2 separate regions of the Homo sapiens genome follow, and region 2 is linked to region 1. A link means that fine-mapping ties the variant in region 1 to the expression of a gene that starts in the linked region. Tissue or cell type: atrial appendage. Region 1 holds a variant in brackets; the other region holds the start of a gene. All regions are shown on one strand. Distances are between the middles of the regions.

The links. PIP is the estimated chance that this variant, and not a neighbour inherited with it, causes the effect.
Region 2: LRRCC1 starts here. The variant in region 1 is fine-mapped to the expression of LRRCC1 in atrial appendage (GTEx, PIP 0.99). The same link has a PIP of 0.9 or more in whole blood.

Annotation. Positions count from the first base shown.
Region 1 is chr8:85,152,963-85,161,166 of GRCh38, reverse strand. No RefSeq gene overlaps it. Among named protein-coding and RNA genes, the nearest start is that of E2F5-DT, 20 kb to the left of the region's middle. The variant T/C (reference allele first, on the strand shown) is at 3,908.
Region 2 is chr8:85,102,248-85,110,425 of GRCh38, reverse strand. LRRCC1 (leucine rich repeat and coiled-coil centrosomal protein 1) reads right to left here and starts at 3,188. Exons shown (of 19, transcript NM_033402.5): 1 at 3,027-3,188; 2 at 626-831; 3 at 246-311. The coding sequence starts at 3,130. LOC105375933 (a long non-coding RNA gene) reads left to right here and starts at 2,564. Exons shown (of 3, transcript XR_929117.3): 1 at 2,564-2,867. RefSeq lists an enhancer at 3,017-3,076.

The sequences.
Region 1 (8,204 bases):
TTATAAGGACACTAGTCAAATTGGATTAGGGTCCATCAATATGACTTCATTGAACTTTAATTACCTCTTTAGAGGCTCAGTCTTTAAATACAGTCACATTATGAGGGGTGTTGGGGGTTAGTACTTTGTGAATTTGGGGTTACGTGATCAGCCCATAACATTATGGATCATACTTTTTCATGTCTAAAGAATCTTTGCCTAATCCAAGGGCACAAGGATTTTGTTTCACGTTGTCATCTTTTAAAATATACAAATATTTAATTGACAAAGTTGTATTATTGAAAGTTTACAATGTGATGATTTGATATACATTATACATTGTATATTGTTTACCACAATCAAATAAACACATCCTCATCACCCATAGTTACGTTTTTTTGAGTGTGTGTTTGAGGAGAGGTGAGGAGGCTTAAAATCTACTCTCTTATCAAACAATACAGTATTATTAACTAAAGTCACCATGCTGTACATCAGATCCCCAGAACCTATTCATTTTCTGAGTGAGAGTGTATACATTTTAACCAACATCTCCTAATTTACCCCAACCCCCAGCTCCCAGCGGCCACCATTATGTTCTCTGCTTCTGTGAGTTCAACTTTTTTAGATTCCACATAAAAGTGAGATCATACAGTTTTTATCTTTCTGTGTCTGGCCTTATTTTACTCAGTATAATGTCCTCCAGATTCATCCATATTGTCGCAAATGAAATAATTTCCTTGTTTCTTATGGCTGAATAATATTTCATTTGAATCTACCATTTTTTAAAATCCATTCATCCATCAGTGAACACTTATGTTGTTTCCATGTTTTGCCATTGTAAATAATGCTGCAATGAACATGGGGATGCAGATAACTCTTTGAGATACTAGTTTTATTTCCTTTGGATATATACCAAGAAGTGGGCCATAAACTTCTAAAAGTTTTATGGTCTCAGCTCTTACATTAATTCATTTTGAATTATTAAAATGATTGAATGCTTAATCTCTCTTTTCTCATCTTTTGGCTATCAACTGATTTGTGTCTTTGAGTCTAAAATGTGTCTCTTATAGGCAAAATATAGTTGGATCTTGACTTTTTAAAAAAATCTAGTCTGACAATCTCTGTTCATTGACTGGCATATTTAGATCAGGGATCAGCAAACTTTTTCCATAGGAGACTAGATAATACATATTTTAGACTTTTCACGGTGGTCTCTGTTGCACTCATTTAACTTTGCTATTGTAGCACAAAAGCAGCAATAGAATATATAAATGGATGCGTATGGGTGTGTTCCAAAGGAACTTTATTTTTCAAAACAAGCAGCAGAATTTGGCTTGCAGCCTGCATTTGCCAAGTCCTTGTTTAGACCATTCACATTTAATGTAAATATTGATATTATTGGATATACAGCTGGTACTTCATGATTTGTTTTCTATATATCTCCAATGGTTTTATTCCTGTGTTCTTACTTTATTCCCTTCTTTTTTCTGAAAACAGTTTTAGTGTATTATTCAATACTGAATTCTTGTTAAGTTTTTTCTTTATTGAGGTATAATTTACATACTATGTAATTCACTCATTTAAGTGTATAATTTATTGATTTTTAATATATTCAGTGCCCCCCAAAAAACTAAATGTTCCTTTCCCCTCAAACTCCCAGCCACTGGCAACCACGAATCAATCTACTTTCTGTCTCTATAAATTTGCCTATTCTGGACATTTGCATATTGCAGGTTGTATCAGTATTCATTTCTTTTTATTGCCAAATAATATTCCATTGTATGGATATACCACATTTTATTTATCCATTCATCACATGATGGATATTTGGATTGTTTCCACCTTTTGGATCTTTTGAATAATGCTCTTGTTAACATTTGCGTACAGGTTTTTGGGTGGACAAAATTTTCATTTCTCCTGAGTATGTAACTAGGGATGGAATTACTGGATTATATAACAACTCTATGTTTAACCTTCTGCTGAACTGCCAGAATGTTTTCCAAAGTGGCTGCACCATTGTATATTCCCACTAGCAGTGTATGAGGATTCCTATTACTACATCATTGTCAACACTTACTATTGCCTTTTATTTATTTATTTATTTTCATTTTGTTTTATATAATTTTTTTGAGACAGAGTCTCACTCTGTCACCCAGGCTGGAGTGCAGTGGCGCAGTCTTGGCTCACTGCAACCTCTGCCTCCCGGGTTCAAGCAATTATCATGCTTCAGCCTCCTGAGTAGCTGGGACTATAGGTGTGCATCACCACGCCCAGCTAATTTTTGTGTTTTTAGTAGAGAGGGGGTTTCATCATGTTGGCCAGGCTGATCTGGAACTCCTGACCTCAAGTGATCTGCCCACCTTGACCTCCCAAAGTGCTAAGATTACAGGTGTGAGCCACCACACCCAGACCAGTTGATTTTTTTATATGGTGTCAGGAAAGGGTACAGTTTCACTCTTCTGCATATGGCTAACTAGTTATCCCAGCACCATTTATTGAATAGGGAGTCCTTTCCTCATTGCTTGTTTCTGTTAACTTTGTCAAAGATCAGATGGTTGTAGGTGTGCAGAATTATTCCTGGGCTCTATATTCTGTTCCATTGGCCTATATGTCTGTTTTTATACAAGTATTATGCTGTTTTGGTTACTGTAGCTTTGTAATATAGTTTGAAGTCAGGTAATGTGATGCCTCTAGCTTTGTTATTTTTGCTTAGGATTGCCTTGGATATTTGGGCTCTTGGTTCCATATGAATTTTAAAATAGCCTTTTTAAATTCTGTGAAGAATACATTGGTAGTTTAATAGGAATAACATTGAATCTATAAATTGCTTTGGGCAGTATAACTGTTTTGACATTATTGATTCTTCCCATCCATGTACATGGAATGTTTTTCCATTTGTTTGTGTCATCTCTGATTTCTTAGAAGAGTGTTTTGTAATTCTCATTATAGAGATGTTTCACCTCCCTGATTAGCTGTATTCCTAGGCAGTTCATTCTTTTTGTGGCTATTGTGAATGGGATTGCATTCTTAATTTGGCTCTCAGCTTGGATGTTGTTGGTGTATAGCAATGCTACTGATTTTTGTACATTGATTTTGTATCCTGAAACTTTGGTGAAGTATCAGATTAAGAAGCTTTTGGGCAGAGACTATAGGGTTTTCTAGGTAAAGAATCATATCATCTTCAAACAGGGATAGTTTGACTTCCTCCATTCCTATTTGGATGCCCTTTATTTCTTTCTCTTGTTTGATTGCTGTGGCTAGCACTTCCAGTACTATGTTGAATAGAAGTGGTGAGAGAGGGTGTCCTTGTTTTGTTCCGATTTTCAAGGGGAATGTTTCCAGGTTTTGCCCATTCAATATGATGTTGGCTGTGGGTTTGTCATAGATGGCTCTCATTATTTTGAAGTATGTTCCTTCAATGTCTAGTTTGTTGAGGGCTTTTACTGATGGGAAGTTGAATTTTATCGAATCTGGGTGCTCCTGTATTGTAGGCAAATATATTTAGGATTGTTAGGTCTTATTGAACTGAACTTTACACCATCATGTATCGTCATTGTCCTTTTTGATCTTTGCTGGTTTAAAGTCTGTTTTGTCTGAAATTATGATAACAACACTTGGTTCTTTTCTGTTTTCCATTTGCTTGGTAGATTTTTCTCTGTCCTTTTGTGAGCCTATGGGTGTCATTGCATGTAAGATGGGGGTCTTGAAGATAGCATACTGATGGGTCTTTCTTCTTTATCCAAGTTGCCACTCTGTGCCTTTTTTAAAAAAAATTATTACACTTTAAGTTCTAGGGTACATGTGCACAATGTGCAGGTTTGTTACATAGGTATACATGTGCCATGTTAGTTTGCTGCACCTATCAACTCGACACTTACATTAGGTATTTCTCCTAATGCTATCCCTCTCCCAGGCCCCCACTCCCCAA[T/C]AGGCCCTGGTGTGTGATGTTCCCCAGCCTGTGTCCATGTATTCTCATTGCTCAACTCCCACATATGAGTGAGAACATGTGGTGTTTGGTTTTCTGTCTTTGTGATAGTTTGCTGAGAATGATGGTTTCCAGCTTCATCCATGTACCTGCAAAGGACATGAACTCATCCTTTTTATGGCTGCATAGTATTCCATGGTGTATATGTGCCACATATTCTTAATCCAGTCTATCATTGATGGACATTTGGGTTGGTTCCAAGTCTTTGCTATTGTGAATAGTGCCGCAGCAAACATACGTGTGCATGTGTCTTTATCATAGAATGATTTATACTCCTTTGGGTATATAGCCAGTAATAGGATTGCTGGGTCAAATGGTATTTCTAGTTCTAGATCCTTGAGGAATTGCCACACTGTCTTCCACAATGGTTGAACTCATTTACACTCCTACCAACAGTGTAAAAGCCTTCCTATTCCTCCACATCCTCTCCAGCATCTATTGTTTCCTGACTTTTTAATGATCACCATTGTAACTGCTGTGAGATGGTATCTCATTGTGGTTTGATTTGCATTTCTTTAATGACCAGTGAAGATGAGCATTTTTTCATATGTTTGTTGGCTGCATAAATGTCCTCTTTTGAGAAGTGTCTGTTCATATCCTTTGCCCACTTTTTGATGGGGTTGTTTTTTCTTGTAAATTCGTCTAAGTTCTTTGTAGATCCTGGATATGAGCCCTTTGTCATATGGTAGATTGCAAAGATTTTCTCCAATTCTGTAGGCTGCCTGTTCATTCTGATGATAGTTTCCTTTGCTGTGCAGAAGCTCTTTAGTTTAATTAGATCCCATGTGTCAATTTTGGCTTTTGTTGCCATTGCTATTGGTATTTTAGTCATGAAGTCTTTGCCCATGTGTATGTCCTGAATGGTATTGCCTAGGTTTTCTTCTAGGGTTTTATGGTGTTAGGTCTTACATTTAAGTCTTCAATCCACCTTGAGTTAATTTTTGTATATGGTGTAAGGAAGGGATCCAGTTTTAGCTTTCTACATATGGCTAGCCAGATTTCCCAGCACCATTTATTAAATAGGGAATCCTTTCCCCATTTCTGGTTTTTGTCAGGTTTGTCAAAGATCAGATAGTTGTAGATGTGTGGTGTTATTTCTGAGGCCTCTGTTCTGTTCCATTGGTCTATATATCTGTTTTGGTACCAGTACCATGCTGTTTTGGTTCCTGTAGCCTTGTAGTATAGTTTGAAGTCAGGTAGTCTGATGCCTCCAGCTTTGTCCTTTTTGCTTAGGATTGTCTTGGCAATGCGGGCTCTTTTTTGGTTCCATATGAACTTTAGCTTTTCCCAATTCTGTGAAGAAAGTCAATGGTAGCTTGATGGCGACAGCATTCAATCTATAAATTACCTTGCGCAGTATGGCCATTTTCACAATATTGATTCTTCCTTTCCATGAGCATGGAATGTTCTTCCATTTGTTTGTGTCCTCTTTTATTTTGTTGAGCAGTGGTTTATAGTTCTCCTTGAAGAGGTCCTTCACATCCCTTGTAAGTTGTATTCCTAGGTATTTTATTCTCTTAGTGGCAATTGTGAGTGGGAATTCACTCATGATTTGGTGCTCTGTTTGTCTATTATTGGTGTATAGGAATGCTTGTGATTTTTGCACATTGACTTTGTATCCTGAGACTTCGCTGAAGTTGCTTATCAGCTTAAGGAGATTTTGGCTGAGATGATGGGGTTTTATAAATATATAATCATGTCATCTGCAAACAGAGACTATTTGACTTCCTCTTTTCCTAATTGAATGCCCTTTATTTCTTTCTCCTGTCTGATTGCCCTGGCCGGAAGTTCCAACACTATGTTGAATAGGAGTGGTGAGAGAGGGCATCCCTGTCTTGTGCCAGTTCGCAAAGGGAATGCTTCTAGTTTTTGCCCATTCAGTATGATATTGGCTGTGGGTTTGTCATAGATAGCTCTTATTATTTTGAGATATGTCCCATCAATACCTAATTTATTGAGACTTTTTAGCATGAAGGGCTGTTGAATTTTGTCGAAGGCCTTTTCTGCATCTATTGAGATAATCATGTGGTTTTTGTCGTTGGTTCTGTTTATGTGATGGATTACGTTTATTGATTTGCATATGTTGTACCAGTCTTGCATCCCATGGATGAAGCCAACTTGATTGTGGTGGATAAGCTTTCTGATGTGCTGCTGGATTCAGTTTGCCAGTACTTTATTGGGGATTTTCACATTGATGTTCATCAGGGATATTGGCCTAAAATTCTCTTTTTTTGTTGTGTCTCTACCAGGCTTTGATATCAGGATGATTCTAGCCTCATAAAATGTGTTAGGGACAATTCCCTCTTTTAATAGAGATTGAAATTGTTTCAGAAGGAATGGTACCAGCTCTTCTTCGTACCTCTGGTAGAATTTGGCTGTGAATCCATCTGGTCCTGGACTTTTTTTTGGTTGGTAGGCTAGTAATTATTGCCTCACTTTCAGAACTTGTTATTGGTCTATTCAGAGATTCAACTTCTTCTTGATTAGGCTTGGGAGGGTGTATGTGTCCAGGAATTTATCCATTTCTTCTAGATTTTCTAGTTTATTTGCATAGAGGTGTTTATACTATAATCTCTGATGGTAGTTTGTATTTCTGTGGGATCAGTGGTGATATCCCCTTTATTTTTTATTGTGTCTATTTGGTTCTTCTCTCTTTTCTTCTTTGTTAGTCTCGCTAGCAGTCTATTTTGTTGATCTTTTCAAAAAATCAACTCCTGGATTCATTGATTTTTTGAAGGTTTTTTTGTTTCTCTAACTCCGTCAGTTCTGCTGTGATCTTAGTTATTTCTTGCCTTCTGCTAGCTTTTGAATGTGTTTGCTCTTGCTTCTCTAGTTCTTTTAATTGTGATATTAGGGTGTCGATTTTAGATCTTTCTTGCTTTCTCTTGTGGGCATTTAGTGCTATAAATTTCCCTCTACAAACTGCTTTAAATGTGTCTCAGAGATTCTGCTACGTTGTGTCTTTGTTCTCATTGGTTTCAAAGAACATCTTTACTTCTGCCTTTATTTCGTTATTTACCCAGTAGACATTCAGGAGCAGTTTGTTCAGTTTCCATATAGTTGTGCAGTTTTGAGTGAGTTTATTCATCCTGAGTTCTAATTTGATTGTGTGTCCAAAATTGGTGGGTTCTTGGTCTCATTGACTTCAAGAATGAAGCCGAAGACCTTTACGGTGAGTGTTACAGTTCTTAAAGGTAGTCTGTCCTGAGTTTGTTCCTTCTGATGTTCAGACGTGTTCAGTTTCTTCCTTCTGGTGGGTTTGTGGTCTTGCTGGCTTCAGGAGTGAAGCTGCAGACCTTCGCGGTGAGTGTTACAGCTCTTAAGGTGGCGCCTCTTAAGGTGGTGCATCTGGAGTTGTTCGTTCCTCCTGTCCGGAGTTGTTCGTTCCTCCTGTCCGGAGTTGTTCATTCCTCCAGGTGGGTTCATGGTCTTGCTGGCCTCAGGAGTGAAGCTGCAGACCTTCACGGTGAGTGTTATAGCTCATAAAGGCAGTGCAGACCCAAAGAGTGAGCAGCAGCAAGATTTATTGCAAACAGTGAAAGAACAAAGCTTCCACAATGTGGAAGGGGACCCGAGCACGTTGCCGCTGCTGGCTTGGGCAGCCTGTTTTTATTCCCTTATCTGACCCCACCCACATCCTGATGATTGGCCCATTTTAGAGAGAGCTGATTGGTCCATTTTACAGACAGCTGATTGGTCCATTTTACAGAGAGCTGATTAGTCCTTTTTGACAGGGTGCTGATTGGTGCATTTACAATCCCTGAGCTAGACACAGAGTGCTGATTGGTGTATTTACAATCCTCTAGCTAGACGTAAAAGTTCTCCAAGTCCCCACTAGATTAACTAGACACAGAACACTGATGGGTGCATTTACAAACTTTGAGCTAGAGACAGGGTGCTGATTGGTGCGTTTACAAACCATGAGCTAGACACAGGGTGCTGATTGGTGCATTTACAATCCTTTAGCTATACATAAAGATTCTCCAAGTCCCTACCAGATTAGCTAGATAGAGAGTGCTGATTGGTGCATCCACGAACCCCAAGCTAGACACAGAGTGCTTATTAGTGAATATACAATCCTCTGGCTAAACATAAAAGTTCTCCAAGTCCCCATCTGACTCAGGAGCCCAGCTGGCTTCGCCTCATGGATCCCATGCAGGGGCCACGGGCGGAGCTGCCCGCCAGTCCTGCACCATCTGCCCGCACTCCTCAGCCCTTGGGTGGTCGATGGCACCAGGGG
Region 2 (8,178 bases), 51 kb after region 1:
ACTGGATCCTTTCCAATTAAGTTTTTCCTGCTACTGATTACCTTGGTTTTAACTTCTATTTTGTACTCAGCTGTGGTTTTGGTACCAACAAAATAGAATCATGACTGGAATACGCTCTCTAGATGAGCTCTTTGGCTAAAAATTAGATTAATATTCAGAGATTTCCAACATGTTTAGCTGAGCTGTTAACTTATCACATGTGGCACAACATTTAGCATACAGAAAACATAAGCATTTCTACTTACCACTAAGATCATCTATGTGGTTATAAGATACATTTAGTCTAGTCAGATTAATTAGTTCTTCAAGTCCTAAAAAAAAAAAGTAAAATAAAATAAAGCCTTTATAAAATTTAAATAATTAATTACAGAGATATAGCATTACAATGTTATTTCAGACTGTTCTGAAGTAAATCCAGTCTGGTAACAGCGAAATCAATTTTATTGGCATTTAGAAAAAACAGAATTTTTAAAAAATTGACACTTTTTTGGAGAAAATATTTTGTATAATGAGTTTCAGACTCAATTTTTAAGAGTTTCTGATATTTATTCCATTCTTTTGGGGAAAAAAATGGACCTAAATCATTTTCCTTACGCTAAGTGTTAAATGAAAATCACTTACAAACCTTCTACTTTTGTAATCAAATTGCAGGACAAATTTAATGTGCACAGTTTTGTCAGTGTGTTTAGTCCTTCAATTCTACTTATTTGATTAGATGACAGATCTAGATGTTGTAAATTCCAAATATGATCAATGGCTTCGATCTTGGAGATGTTATTGCAATGAAGATTGACGGCATGAAGAGTTGAATCTAAAGATAATTCTGATATGCTATAAAAGAAAATATATACTATAAAAATAGATTTTAAAAGCATGACCAAATAACTAAAATTAACCAAACAGCACGTAGATACTAAATATGTGCTCTATTCATTCTAGAATGAAATCTTTCCTATTTGTGGTACCTTTGAAATGTCTCACAAAACACGGTGCTTCTTACAACACAACCAAGTATTTTGGATTATTTATACAAACAAGAAACCGCTCAAGGCAGGCAAGTGACAGTGGGCATTTCTAACTCCTGTGTGCAGTCATCAGCATATATTGAAGGCAGTGCTGAATAGTAGTCAATAACTGTAAAGGCTTTGGAATGTTAATATCCCAGTTTGAATCTGCATTCTATCACGGTTTTGCTGTGTGATTTGAGCAAATGACAACCTGAGCCTCAGTTTTCTTACCTCAATTAATTCTCACAATAACTCTAAGCAGTGGGTATCTTAAGGATACCTAAATTTATGGAAATTAAATAGCTTGCCCAAATTCTTGCAGCTAACAGAGCATATGTAAATCCAGATCTCATGCTGGAGATTATAACTTTATTTTCTTCTTTGTGTGCAATAGCTATTTAATCCACAGTCTATTGCATTTTCAAAAACAAACCATGTTATTGCAATTCCTATTGAAAAAGTCCCTGTCCTCCCTTGTTGAAAGTTAATGGATCTCCCCTAAACAGAACTCATCTCTTCACTCCAATTACTATTTATAACTGAAGCTTCTCCTGAAGATAGTAGTTCCAGGAACACAAACTACAGCATACACAGTTTGGAGTTGCTAGATGGGAGATACACCCAGGAACACACAATGTCACGGGCATCTGCTGTAGGTTGAGTAGCAGCTATCTTACAGCTGTAGGAAACCTAACTCTGACAGCAGGGAAGCATTTGCAAATTTCAAACTAGCAACCTTTAAATGTGACTATCTGGGGCATTTCCCACTTATCCTGCTGTGTCATTTACTTGAGTTCTTATTTAGTGCCAGACCTTATGCTGTTAACACATGCTCTTAATGACAGTCATTTACTTTCTGACACATTTCAGTTTCTCGACATTAATAATGTGCAGATAATGTGAGATAGAAAAAGCATAGTGAAATTAGACGGAAAATGGGTTTGAATCCGAACTTAATTCTTCATGAAGTGTATAAAGATGAACAAATTGTCAATAGATTCTGAGTCTCATTCATCACTTGTAAATGAGAAAAATTACTACCTTGTAGAATTGCTGTGAGGATTACTGATAATGTATATAACATGCACACAACAGATAGCATTCAGTAAATGGCAGCTAGTATTAAATAGAAATGTAAAATGTCCCTTGAACAGCATCTTCTTGGGATCATCTGGCAAAGTTTAAATCAGAATCCAGAACAAGATGCTTAATTATCAGTAGCAGAGTTCGCGTAGAGGACACGCTACAAAGGAACAGCATGTGCAAAGGCACAGAGAAGTCTGCTATGGAATTGCCTGTAGCTCAGTACAGGTAAATAAAGTGTAAGTGGAGAAATGTTACGGGTCGAGACTAAAGAGCCTGAAATGCAGGTGGAGACCTGCTTTACAGTATTACAGAACCAAGTGCCTCATATGCTTTGCACAAGTCAGGGCTTCAAGAGAGAGGGAAACGATGAACTAAATATAGTAAGTTTAGTACTTTCAAAAAGTATATGAATATATGTATTGCAATGTTCTGTAACGGACAAATGATTTCGAATGCAGACAAGGAGAACTGAGGCAAAACTAACAGGCAGCAGCGACTGCCCGCTCATAGCTGCCAGAGATACTATCCTGCAGGTTTTTTTCAGAGGTAAGAACAGGAAAGACGAGAGAACACGAGAAAACCAGCAATTAAACGGCAAGCAAAGGAATAACCACCAGTAAGTAAGGAAAACCAGCAGAAGGAAAGAGTGGTCAGAAGCTGGTGGAGGACAAGGTCCTGGGGCAGTTTCTAGGCTAAGCAGAGTCGTGTGAAACGCTGGGCAGGAGACACGGGCGGGAAGGCATCCACGGCTCATTCAACCTGGCACTTCGGCAGGTAAGTTTTGGAGGAGCGGGGAGGCCGAAAGCCAGACTGCGTTCACTTATGGTCTTGGTAAAGCAGTGCCGCGCCTCCACTCTGGTGTCGCCGCCAGCCACTCGTGGCCCCGGCTCTGGGGAGTGCGCGGGTCGCTCCTGGCTGCGGAGCGCCCTTTACCTCTGCAAGCCTTTGTCCATGAAGCATACATCCCCGCAGCTGCTGTCGCCGTCTTCGTTTTCCACTTCCGCCTCTGCCGCCACCACCGCCGCCGCCGCCTCCATAGCACTGGCGACGGGGAGCGGGGTCTTAACCGGCACCCAGCGAGGGGTCCGTGAGCTTGGGACAAGCCTCCCGGAAGCGCGGAAGGGCGGCCCGAGGGGGCGGGGCGGGGCGAGGACCCACCCTCCAACCGACAGCCGGGAACTTTCCCGCCTTGACGGTGACGCAAAACTGGAATCCTCGTCCCAACTGTGGGCTTCTTTCGTTTTTACAGCATCTGCGGTGCGACTCTTGAACTTGCTGTAAAGTAAAACTGCTTCCCGGGCGTGTAGGAGCTGGAGAATGAATGGATTTGTCCTGTGTGCTTCTGTATATTTGCCTAGTAGCCGACTGACTTCTGAAGGCGGTTTTCACAGCGGTTTGGCTTTACGTGCCTTTACATAGCCTTACATACGTATAAATTGTTCCTCTGGCCATTGCACCTCCTGTTGATTCATTGAACAATTTGTGGGATGCCTTACTGTATGTCAGTCACTTCCCTGTATGAGGAAGAAAAAGATGAAGCCTATTCTTGTTCCTGGAAACATTCGCAGCCCCATAGAGGAAACAGAATTGCCATACAGTATGACGAATGCTAAGAATAACACAAGGGCATCGAAACCAACTCTAGAGTGATATGGGTAGTGGGTACGTTTTCTAAAAGAAGTGATTGATGACTGAATAGAGTCTTGCTGGGTTAGGGGGAGTTCTGGATGAATGGCATTACAGGTGGGAAAGCAATACCTGTGTGAGGTCAAATAACCCTCCTGGCTAGATTGCTTCCTAAGGCATAGTAATATTTTAAAACGGAGCAAATGGTGCAGTAGTCCATTTGAAGTGGACTATTTCCTTTTGAAATAACTCATATAGACAAAAATAAAAAAGATGTTTTAAAAAATGAGCAAAACCCACATGACATGTAGGACACCATAAAGTGACCAAATATTCAAAATTTTGGAGTCTCAGAAGGCAAAGAGAAAACAATAGAGTTGGAAAAATGGTTCAACAAAATACTATATGAAAACTTCCCAAGTCTAGCAAGAGATTTAGACACCCAGGCACAGGAGGCCAAAGGTTCCCAAACAGATACAATGCAAAAAGGTTTTCTTTTAAAAAAAATTTCATCTCACTTTTTATTTTAGATTCGGGGGTACATGTGCAGGTTTGTTACATAAGTATATTGCACGATGCTGAGGTTGTGGCTTCTAATGATCCTGTAACCCAAATAGTAAATATAGCGCTTGATAGGTAGTTATTCAACTCTTGCCTTCCCCCTTTTGGAGTCCCCAGTGTCTATTGTTCCCATCTTTGTGTTCATGTGTATCCAGTGTTTAGCTGCCACTTGGAAGTGAGAACATATGGTATTTGGTTTTCTGTTTCTGTGTTAATTCACTTAGGATAATGACCTTCAGCTGCATCCATATTGCTGCAAAGGACATGATTTTGTTCTTTTTTATGGCTGCATGTTGGTGTATATGTGCCACATTTTCTTTATCCAGTCTATCATTGATGGGCATCAGGGCTCATTCCATGCCTTTGCTACTGTGCTGCAATAAACATATGAATGCGGGTGTCTTTTTGGTAAAACAATTTATTTTTCTTTGGCTAGATACCTGGTCATGGGATTCCTGGATTGAACGGTAATTCTATTTTTAGTTCTTTGTGAAATCTCCAAACTGCTTTCCACAGTGGCTGCAATTTGCATTCCCACTGATGGTGTGTAAGCATTACTTTTTCTCTGCAACCTCACTAACATCTCATATTTTCTGACTTTTTAATAAAACCCACTCTGACTGCTGTGAGATGATATCTTATTATAGTTTTGATTTACATCTCTCTGATTATTAGTGATGTTGAGCATTTAAAAATATGTTTCTTGGCTGCTTGCATGTCTTCTTTCGCAAAAAAGAAAAGAAAAGAAAAAGTCTCCTTTATGGCCCATTGTAGTCAAACTGATAAAAGTCAAAGACAAAGAATTCTAAAAACAGCAAGAGAAAAACATCTAGTCATTTATAAGGGAACCCTCAACAAACTAACAGTGGATTTCTCACCAAAAACTTTACAAGCCGGCAGAGAATGGTATGATAAATTCAAAGTGCTGAAAGAAAAAACAGCCAGCCAAGTACTCAACAAAGTTATCCTTCATAAACCAAGGAAAAATAAAGTCTTTCCAAGATAAGCAAAAGCAAAAGAATTCATCACCAGTCGACTGGACCTATAAAAATGCTCATGAGAGTCTTACATATGGAAACAAAAGGACAATATTTACCAGCATGAAAACACACAAAAATATAAAGTCCACTGGTAGATCAAACACACAAGAAAGAGAAAGGACTCAAATGTTACCATTACAGAAAACCACCAAACCACAATCATAAACAATGATAGAGAAGGAAAGGAACAAGGAATACACAAAAATAACCAGAAATGGATTAATAAAATGACAGGAATAAGCCCTCACGTATCAATCATGACCTTATGCAAATGGAATAAATTTTCCACCTGGAAGATATAGCTTGAATTAATGGATTAAAAAATGACCCAACAATAGTCTGCTTAGAAGAAACTCATCACACTTGTAAAGACACATATGGACTGAAAGTAAAGGGAAGAAAAAAGATATTTTATGCAAATGGAAACCAAAAGCCAGCAGGAATAGCTATATGAATATTAGATACAATAGACTGTAAGTTAAAAATAGTAAAAAAGAGACAAGAAAGGTCACTATGTAATGATAAAGGGATCGGGCACAGTGGCTCATGCCTGTAATCCTAGCACTTTGGGAGGCCGAGGCGGGTGAATTGCCTGAGCTCAGGAGTTTGAGACCAGCCTCGGTAACACGGTGAAACCCCGTCTCTACTAAAATGCAAAAAATTAGCAGGGGCTGGCTGCGTGTGCCTGTAATCCCAGCTACTCAGGAGGCTGAGACAGGAGAATCACTTGAACCCGGGAGGTGGAGGTTGCAGTGAACTGAGATCGCACCACTGCACTCCAGCCTGGGCGACAGAGTTAGACTGTCTCAAAAAAAAAAAAAAAAAATCAATTCAGCAAGAGGATATAACAATTCTAAACATATATGCACTCTACACCTAGGCACCCAGATGTATAAAGCAAATATTATTAGATTTAAAGAGAGAGAGAGAGATTCCAACAGGATAATAGTTGGGGATTTAAGCACCCCATTCTCAGTATTACATAGATCATCTAGACAGAAAACAAACAAACAAACAAAAAACATTTAATTTAAACTGCACTTTATACCCAATGGATCTAACAGAAATTTGCAGAAAATTTCATCCAAGAGCTAGAGAACGCACATTTTTCTCATCAACATAGGGAACATTCTCCAGGACAGACTACATGTTAGGACACCAAAAATGGCTCAACAAAATTTTTAAAAATAAATAATGCTAAGTGTCTTCTCAGACTCCATTGAAACAAAACCAGAAATCAATTACAAGAGGAACTTTAGAAACTGCACAAATATATGGAAATTAAAGAACATGCTCCCAAATTATTGAGCAAGAAAGAAATTAAAGAGGAAATCAAAAAATTTTTTAGACCAGTAAGAACCAAAACACAACATACCAACACCTCTGGGGTACAGCAAAAGCAATGCTAACTGGGAAGCTTATAGTAATTAATGCCTTTATCAAAAAAGTAGAAAGATTTCAAATAAACAATTTAATGTTACACCTCAAGGAACTAGAAAAGCAAGAAGAATCCCAACCCAAAATTAGCAGAAGAAAAGAAATCATGAAGATCAGAGCAGAGCTAAATGAAATAGAAGCTTAAAAAAATACAAAGGATCAACAAAACAAAATGTTTTTTTTAAAAAAATGATGAGCAAAATTGATAACAAACAAAATTCACTAGCTAGACTAACCAAGAAAAAAAGAAGATCCCAGTAAACAAAATAAGAAATGAAGAAGAAGGCATTAAAACTGATGCCACAGAAATACAAAAGAGTGTCAGAGACAATTATGAACAACTGTATGGTAATGAACTGGAAACCCTAAAGGAAATGGGTGAATTCCTTGATACATACAATCTACCAAGGTTAAACCAGGAAGAAATAGAAAACCTAAACAGACCAATAATTAGTAGCTAGAATCAGTAATAAAAAGTCTTCCAACAAAAAAACTCCAGGACTGGATGGCTTCATGCTGACTCCCACCAATTTTTCAAAGAAGAACCAAAGCCAATTCTCTTCAAGCTATTAAAAAAATTGAACATGAGGGAATTCTCCCTAACTCATTCTACAAGGCCAGCATTACATTGATACCAAAACTAGACAGGGATGCAAAAAATAAAGAAAACTACAGGCCAACATCCCTGATGAACAGATGCAAAAATCCTCAATGAAATCCTCAATGAAAACTGAATCCAACAGCACATCAAACAGATACTAGATAATCAAGTGGGATTTATTCCAGGGATGCAGGAATTGTTCAATATATGTAAATGAACACATGTGATACATCATATCAACAGAATGAAGGACAAAATCCATAAGATCATCTCAGTAGATGCAGAAAACGCATTAGATGAAACTCAGTCTTTTCATGATACAAACTCTCAACAAACTAGGCATAGAAAGAACATACTTCAATATAATAAAGGCCGTATATGAAAAACTCACAGCTAACATCATCCTGAATGGGAAAAAGTTGAAATCCTTTCCTCTAAGAACTGGAACAAGACAAGTGTGCCCACTTTCAGCACTCTTATTTGACATACTACTGGAAATTATAGCTAGACCAATCGGCAATATAAAGAAATAAAAAGACATTGAAATTGGAAAAGAGAAAGTCAAATCGTCCCTGTTTGCAAATGGCATAATCTTATATCTAGAGAAACTTAAGGACTCTACCAAAAAACTCTTAGATCTGATAAATAAATTCAGGAAAGTTGCAGCATAGAATTTTAACATACACAAATGTAGCATTTCTATACACTAATAATGAACAAGCTGATAAAGAAACCAAGAAGGCAATCCCATTTGCAATAGCTATAAAAATAAAAGACTTAGAAATAAATTTAGCCAAGGATGTGAAAGGCAGCTTTTCTC